Linked DNA regions of Homo sapiens. The protein of the gene in region 1 purifies or fractionates together with the protein of each later gene. This does not show direct contact. Each region holds a gene or a part of one and is shown on either strand. Other genes may lie near its edges.

Region 1 (3,751 bases):
GACTCCCCATAGCACTTTACAGATTTTACTGTTTCTTGCTTCTGGCGGGCGTCTGGATAGAGGCATGGTGCGGCAGAGTCTCGACTTTATTCTCAAATATTGGGAAAGTAGCCTGGACAACATAGCGGGACCTCCTCTCTAAAAAAAAAAGTTTTTTAAATTAGCCTGGGGTGGTGCTGCACGCCTGTAATGCCAGCTAGTCGGGAGGTTGAGGCAGGAGGATCGCTTGAGCCCAGGAGGTCGCGACTGCAGTGAGCGGTGATCGCTCCACGGCACTCCAGCCTGGGCGACAGAGCGAGGCCCTGTCTCAGACAACAAAACAAACTTACAAAAAAACCGGGAAAGGTGAGCGTCTGGACTGTGGGCCGGAAGAGGCCCAAGTGGACCTCCTTCCTCCACCCTGGAACTCTGGCCAGAGGCAGAGCGCGAGGTGAGGAGTCCAGGGCCCCAGAGCCCAGGATTGGCGGCGGCTTTGTCTTCAATCGTCCACCTGTATCTCCTCGTCTGACAGGTGGGGCCGGGAGTCAGGGCCGGCAGGGCCGAGGCAGAGGCCGGGATCTGGAGCGCCTTCGGGCAGTGCTAAGCTGCACAGGACTTCCGGGGACAACGCGCGTAGCGAGGCGACGTCGGCGCGCATCTCCTCCACATCGCGCTTGAGCTTGGCTCGCCGGTTCTGGAACCAAGTGACCACCTGCGCGTTGGCCAGGCCGAGTCGCGTAGCTAGCCCGTCTCGCTCGGACGGCGCCAGGTACTTCTGGAAGACGAAGCGCCGCTCCAGCTCCAGCACCTGTTGCGCGGTGAACGCAGTGCGTGACTTGCGCCGTTTGCGGCCGAAGGGACCAGGGCCCAGCGCGTCCGGACCTGCCCGCCCTGTAGGGATAGGGAGGGGGTCAGTTTCCAGCCTCCGGGAATCAGGCTGGGCCTGGAAAGAAAAGTTGGGGGTGGGGTCGGGCCGGTGGCGGTGGGGGAAGTAGAGGGAGAGCCAGGAAGGCGGACGGAGACCAGAACTGTGATCCCTTATCGGGAGTCAGGCCCAGGTGGGGATATGGGGCGCAAAGCGGGCTGGCCACAGGGGTGCGAAAGGCAGCAGGCTGAGGGCATATTGTAGGGGCAAGGAAGTGAAGGAAGGGAGGGATGATTCAGAGGTGCAGGGTCAAACCTTCTGGGGTGGAGCCTTTGAGGCTTTTAGGAGCCTCAGGCTGAGCAGGCTATAAGTTGAGGGTGACATCAGAGGCGAGTAAGAGTCAGGGCAGCCGACCCAGCGTGGTGGTGGTAACAGGACTTAGATCATGCCCTTCCATGGATCGGGTCGGGCATTCGGTTTACAGTTCCTTAGTGACACCAGAGCCCGCTCCTCCGGCCCCAAAGGGAGATAATGAGGTACAGAGAGCGAGAAAAGGCAGAGTGCGGAATCCCGCGCCCAGTGCTGCGCCAAGGGCTTTCTGCTCCTTGACTCCCCTCGAGAAGAGAGTGGCTTGGAGCGGAGCTTGGTCACCCGGAAAGACTCGACTCTCCAGCGCTTTCTGTGCCGCCTTTGCAGGCTCACTCGTTTACCGCCTGCGGCTGAAGCCTTTTGTCTCTTTCTCTCCTGCCTTTCTCTATCGCGATTGCCCCGCCTACAAGGAACAGAGCAACAGGTCGCTCAGTTGGCGACGGTCTGCCCTTTTCCCTTGGCACTGGCGGCCTTCCGGAGCCGCCGCGGAACCTAGGGACTAACGGAGGAGAGGTGAGAAGTCGCAGGTGCGAGTCCTGGCACGTGGGCTGAGGACAGGGGAGGATTAGGGTGGGTGGCCTGGGCTGGGACAAAGGTTTGAGACGGGGAACCAGGAGGAGAGAGGTGAGGAAAAGGCTAAGTCAGAGTCCGCGACCTTGCCGGCTCTATACCTTCAGAGGGCTGCAGAGCGCGCGCGTCAAGTCCGCGGAAAGTTTTACTAGTCAGCTCCTCCAGCGCGCACAGCGGCGACGTTGGACCCGGACCCGACTCTGGAAGCTGCGGCGCAGAGGGTGCTCGGGGGACCATGCGCGGGGCTAGGATGTCTGCGATGCTTAAGAGTGTCCGGGGTGTTCGGGGCTCGCGTCCCGAGTTCATGGTCGGCCGGGCTGGGGCGGTCCGGCTGTCCGTTGCGCTAGGCTCCGCAAACGCCTGGGCCCCAGTGCTCGGCTCCCAATCCGGGCCCCCAGCCTCGGACCCGCCCCCGGCTCTGGGCCCGAGTCCCGTGTGCCCCTCCTCCTGCGCCCCCACCTCTCCACCCCGGGCCGCGGTGGATCTGGAGCTCCTAGATGTCCGGGGAGGGTATTTCTACAGGCTGGGGCAGGCGCGGAGAGCAGAAGCCGACCAAACTACCCACCAGAGCAGGGCCACGGGGCTGCTCCGCGCTGCGGGGCGCTGCACCGTGCACAGTCAGGCCGGGCCATACCTCCAGACGCTGTATGCCGCCGACTCCCCGCCTAGCCGCCGCTCCGGCTCATAAACTAGTAGACGATAAAATTGCCTTCTCTGGCCCCAGCGGCTGGGGATTTGCAAAGTTCTGAGGAAGGCTATCAGGGCTGACTGTGCTGGGATCTCTGATCCCAGCTAGGACCTCAGTCTCCTAACCTGGCTCCCTCTTCCCCACCCCACCCCTGAGAAACGTTGTTTCTGGTCCTGACGGCTGGAAGTGATTAGTGCTGCATGGGTCGGGGGCGCAACACTTGGGAGGACCTGGCCTGGCGGAGCGACTGCAACTGGGAATAGTGGGGATGCCACGAAGAAGCAAGCACAGGTGAATGGACCCGAGGCTGCCCCACCTGACGAAATCAGAACACACAGAGAAGCTGCCGGGAGACCCGGGCCGCAGGAGAGAAGACCCAGGGAACTCCCAGCTGGTGCAACTGCCCAGGAGGGGTCTTTGTCAGTGAGGACTGGCAAAATCAGTCGATTTTGTCTGTCTTTATCTTCTTTTTATTAAGCTCCCATAGTTCAGGTATGTATGGTTTCCCCAGCCTGCAGAGGCTCAGAAACTGCCAAGGGGAGCAAGGTGCCCTGACCAGAGAGGGGTCACTCCCCATAGAAGAGAGACTTGAAGGGCAGACTTCACGGACCCAGCTGGATCTTGGGACATTCCTGACAACCCAGGTACTAACTGTGAGGCCTGGTATACTCATTCCTATTTAATCTGGGCCCTTTTTATCTGCCACACTTATTCTGGTTCTGGGCTCATACCTGGGTAAGCACCCACAGCCCTCCTTTGTAGGAAGAAGGCAGCTCAGGGACAGTGGGGCCTCAGCAGTTGAGGCCCAGCAGGGTATGGGTTTTGTTCCTACATTCCACCCCAAACAGCTGGAGGATTCACACCTTAGAGCAGGGAAGCCCTGCCACTCCTGAGGAGCTTGCTGCTTTGCTGCCCAGGGAAGTCAGAAACTGATGTGCTTCTAGCTTTTTAAAACAGTGTCAGGAAAAACCAGGCCAGTCCCTCCTGGACTGTCCATTATGTCACTTTCCTTGTAGACCCCTGCATCTCCCACCATCTGTGCAGTGTCCACCTGTCTATTCCCTGGGGCAACTGCTGCATGCAATTGGGGTTCCCTAAACAGGGCTTAGGAGATCCAAGGCACCTGGGCCAAAGACTCCTTGACAAAGATGGGAAGGCACCTTGATAGGGTCTTCTTGGTAAAGGGCTCACTCCAACAACCCCCCTCCCCCACCCGCAACATTCACATAATGCCCTCCTGGAAAGCTGAGCAACACACTTAAAGGCTGATGGGCCACTGC
Region 2 (3,651 bases), on another chromosome or scaffold:
GGACTCCTCCGCCTGTGATCGTGTGAGCCAATTCCCCTAACAAATCCCACCTCATAAATCCTACTGCTTCTGTCTCTCTGGAGACTGCTGCCTAATACAGGGAAGTAATTAAGGTTAAATGAGGTTACAAAGTGTGGGGCCCTAAACCGAGAGGACTGGTGTCCTTCTAAGAAGAGGAAGAGACACCAGAGATCTCCGTCTCTCCTCAATGACAGAGAGGAAAATTCATATGTGGATACAATAAAAAGGTGGCCTTCTACAAGCCAGGAAGAAAGGCCTCAACCAGGAACCAATCCTGACAGCACCTTGATCTTGGACTTCTAGCCTCCAGAACTGTGAGAAAAATAAATGTCTGTTAGTTAAGCCACCTAGTCTACGGTACCTTGTTATGGCAGCTCAAGCTGACTGATACACACACCTGAGATAAAGGCATTCACTACTGGAGCGCAATTCAAGAATGATAACATTCAGAGGACTAAGACTTTCCTCATCCACTCGTGATTTAATTATGTCCACCAGCTTGGCCTTCCCAGGGCATTTGAATGGAGAAAATCGTGCGGGTAAGGGAATGGAGTAGGAATTATGGTCAGGGTTGGGAAGGGTCAGATCCTGCACAACCTCATGTGTGGAACTACAACTTTTAGGCTTTATCCCAAAAGCTACAAGCAGAATCACACATAGACTGTCTACTAGGCTAGTCACACAGATATGAAAGTGAATCTAGATTATTTTATAGAGACTTTAAGAAAAAACTCCCAAATAAAAAAACAAAAACAAAAACTGGGCTTTCCGTTCTCAGTTAATCAAAAAAGCCCAGCTGACCAGAACAGTTCATTCCTCAAGAATAATGGGTAATGCTGGTTTTACTTAAGTCAGTTTACAAATAGGCATCTGAAAGCAATCAATACTAACAGGATCAAAATCATCTGCCAGAATAGATTCCTTAAATGGGAAACTAAAAGATGAAAGTTACTTAGTGCCTCGGCATACACAGGCATCCAATACAGAACCTTTCTAGCCCTCAGTTTCCTCACATGTGCAATGGGGATACTAATCTCTATTCCACAGGGCACTTGAAGGATTAAATAAAATCACTTCTAGGTAAAGCAGTTACCCAGCGTTTGCCACATACCAGGAGCTTAGCAAATACTACCTTTTGTCAATGTATATGGAGGTGTGTACACCAGCTCTGAGGTATAATTTAGTTATAATGAAAGTCACTTTTTTTAAAATTATACTTTAAGTTCTAGGGTACATGTGCACAACGTGCAGGTTTGTTACATATGTATATATGTGCCATGTTGGAAAGTCACATATTTTTTAAAAATGTAAATTTCCTAAAATGAGAACTCCCCCAAAATCATAAAGGAGTGGGAAGAAAACCGTACACAGACCAAGGAAGACCTTGTATCTAGTGACACAGGAGGAAAAGCAAATCTAGAGAGAGAATAAACTGGGGTTGGAGTCCACAAACTTCTACCTTTACATATGACTACAACATGTAAAATTATATTCCCTAATAACCTACAAAGTATAGTTATGATCACCTCATGTTCCTAACTAAAACTAGACAATAACAGAGTGAATGGCAGGTTCATATTCAGCCTCAGGAGAGGAGGCTGCTCTGAAGCACTTGATAACTCTGCAGAGCCAGCCTGGGGAATGCACACAACTGGACTTTAGAAACAAAGAACTGTTTTCAGAGCATGATTAGGGCTACCTCTGCATGGTCATGGTTTTCTACTGCTGCTTTTTAATGATACATTTGTATAATTTTACCTTGTTTATTTGGTGTACCATAAGGTACACAGTGATAGGTTTTTGTATTAACAATATTTCCAGCCTGTTAACATTGAAAAACTAGCTTTTAAGACACAAGTTTCAGTTCAAATATGAATTATCTACACTCTTATGACCAAAATACATCTATGCCAGTTTCTCCAAAATCTGTGCAGGCAACAACATTTTAGATAGAACACAGTTCTTTTGCTACTGAACAGAAATAGGTGGGCTAGATTGGTTAGAATAGTGTTTTGTTTTTAAGTAATATATTTACACGGTTCTAAAATCAAACAATATATGAAAGTATACAGTAAGGAGTCCCACTCCCACTGCTACTACCTTCCCTTACCAGCTACTTCCTATTAATAACCACTTTATGTTTCTTGTGTACCCTTTGTTTCTTTAGGCATACCATATATGTGGGCAAACGTATGGTCTTATTCTCCCCCTGACTTAATACAAAAACTATACCATATACACACTGTTCTGTATTTTCCTCTTTATCATTAATATATCTTGGAGATTTTTCTATAGCAGTACATAGAGATCTTCATTTTTTCAAAGCTACACAATTTTCCATTATATAAATATTGAATACACTAAGCAGTCCAGTGTTAATGAACATCTGGGTTTCTAGTCTTTTGTTATTACAAATAATGTTGCAATGAATAATTTTTTTTTTTTTTTTTGAGACGGAGTCTAATTATGTCGCCCAGGCTGAAGTGCAGTGGTGCAATCTGGGCTCACAGCAACCTCTGCCTCCTGGGTTCAAGCAATTATCCTGCCTCAGCCTTCTGAGTAACTGGGACTACAGGCGTGCACCACCACACCCAGCTAATTTTTGTATTTTTAGTAGAGATGGGGTTTCGCCATGTTGGCCAGGCTGGTCTCAAACTCTGAACCTCAAGTGATCCTCCTGCCTCGGCCTCCCAAAGTGCTGGGATTACAGGCGTTAAGCCACCGTGCCTGGCCTCAGTGAATAATCTTGTACAGTAGTCCTCCCTTAGTCAAGACCCTCACAGTGGATACCTGAAATGGCAGATAGCACCAAACCCTATATATACTATGTTTTTTCTTATATACACACATAACTATGATAAAGCTTAATTTATAAATTAGGTACACTAAGAGATTAACAATAACTAATGATAAAATAGAACAATTGTAACAAGATGCTGTAATAAGAGTTATACGAATGTGGTCTCTCTCTGGAATTTTTCAGTTAATATTTTCGGATTGCAGTTGACCACGGATAACTGAAACCACAGAAAGTGAAACTGCAGACAAGAGGAGATTAGTGTCTATACATCATTATCTATAAAATGAAGGCCCAGGAGAGACTTAGTAGATCAAAAAGTATATGCATTTGTAATTCTGATAAAAAGTAGTTCTTAACTTTTTTTGTGGTTCTGAGCCCATTAACAAATCTAATGAAAGGTATGGAACTCAGTTCCCAAAATAATGAACAGATACACAAAATTTACATACTAGGAGCCTTCACATGGATCCATCTCTAGAGATATTTAAAAGGGGTGCTAGGTGTGGTGGCTCACACCTGTAATTCTAGCACTTCGGGAAGATGAGGTGGGTGGATCACTTGAGACCAGGAAGTCAAGACCAGCCTGGGCAACATGGCGAAACCCCATCTCTACAAAAAATACAAAAATTAGCCCGGTGTGGTGGCACCTGCCTATAGTTCCAGCTACTCAGGTGGCTGAGGTGGGAGGATCACCTGAGCCTGGGGAGGTCAAGGCTGCAGTGAGCCACGATTGTGCCACTGCACTCCTGCCTGGGTGACATAGTGACGATCCCATCTCAAAAAAGGAAAAAAAAAAAAAAAGAAAAGAAAAGAAAAAGAAAAAAAACTAG

The links.
Region 2: the proteins of LBX2 (region 1) and TRPC4AP purify together in Homo sapiens (affinity purification with mass spectrometry; one large-scale study listed by BioGRID and IntAct). This does not show direct contact.

What each region holds. Positions count from the first base shown.
Region 1 is NC_000002.12:74,497,449-74,501,199, forward strand, and holds LBX2 (transcription factor LBX2), read right to left. Parts: upstream 2,156-3,751; 5' UTR 2,090-2,155; coding exon 1,885-2,089; intron 871-1,884; coding exon 479-870; 3' UTR 69-478; downstream 1-68. UniProt on the Homo sapiens protein: Transcription factor.
Region 2 is NC_000020.11:35,040,794-35,044,444, forward strand, and holds part of TRPC4AP (short transient receptor potential channel 4-associated protein), read right to left. Parts: intron 1-3,651. UniProt on the Homo sapiens protein: Substrate-recognition component of a DCX (DDB1-CUL4-X-box) E3 ubiquitin-protein ligase complex required for cell cycle control.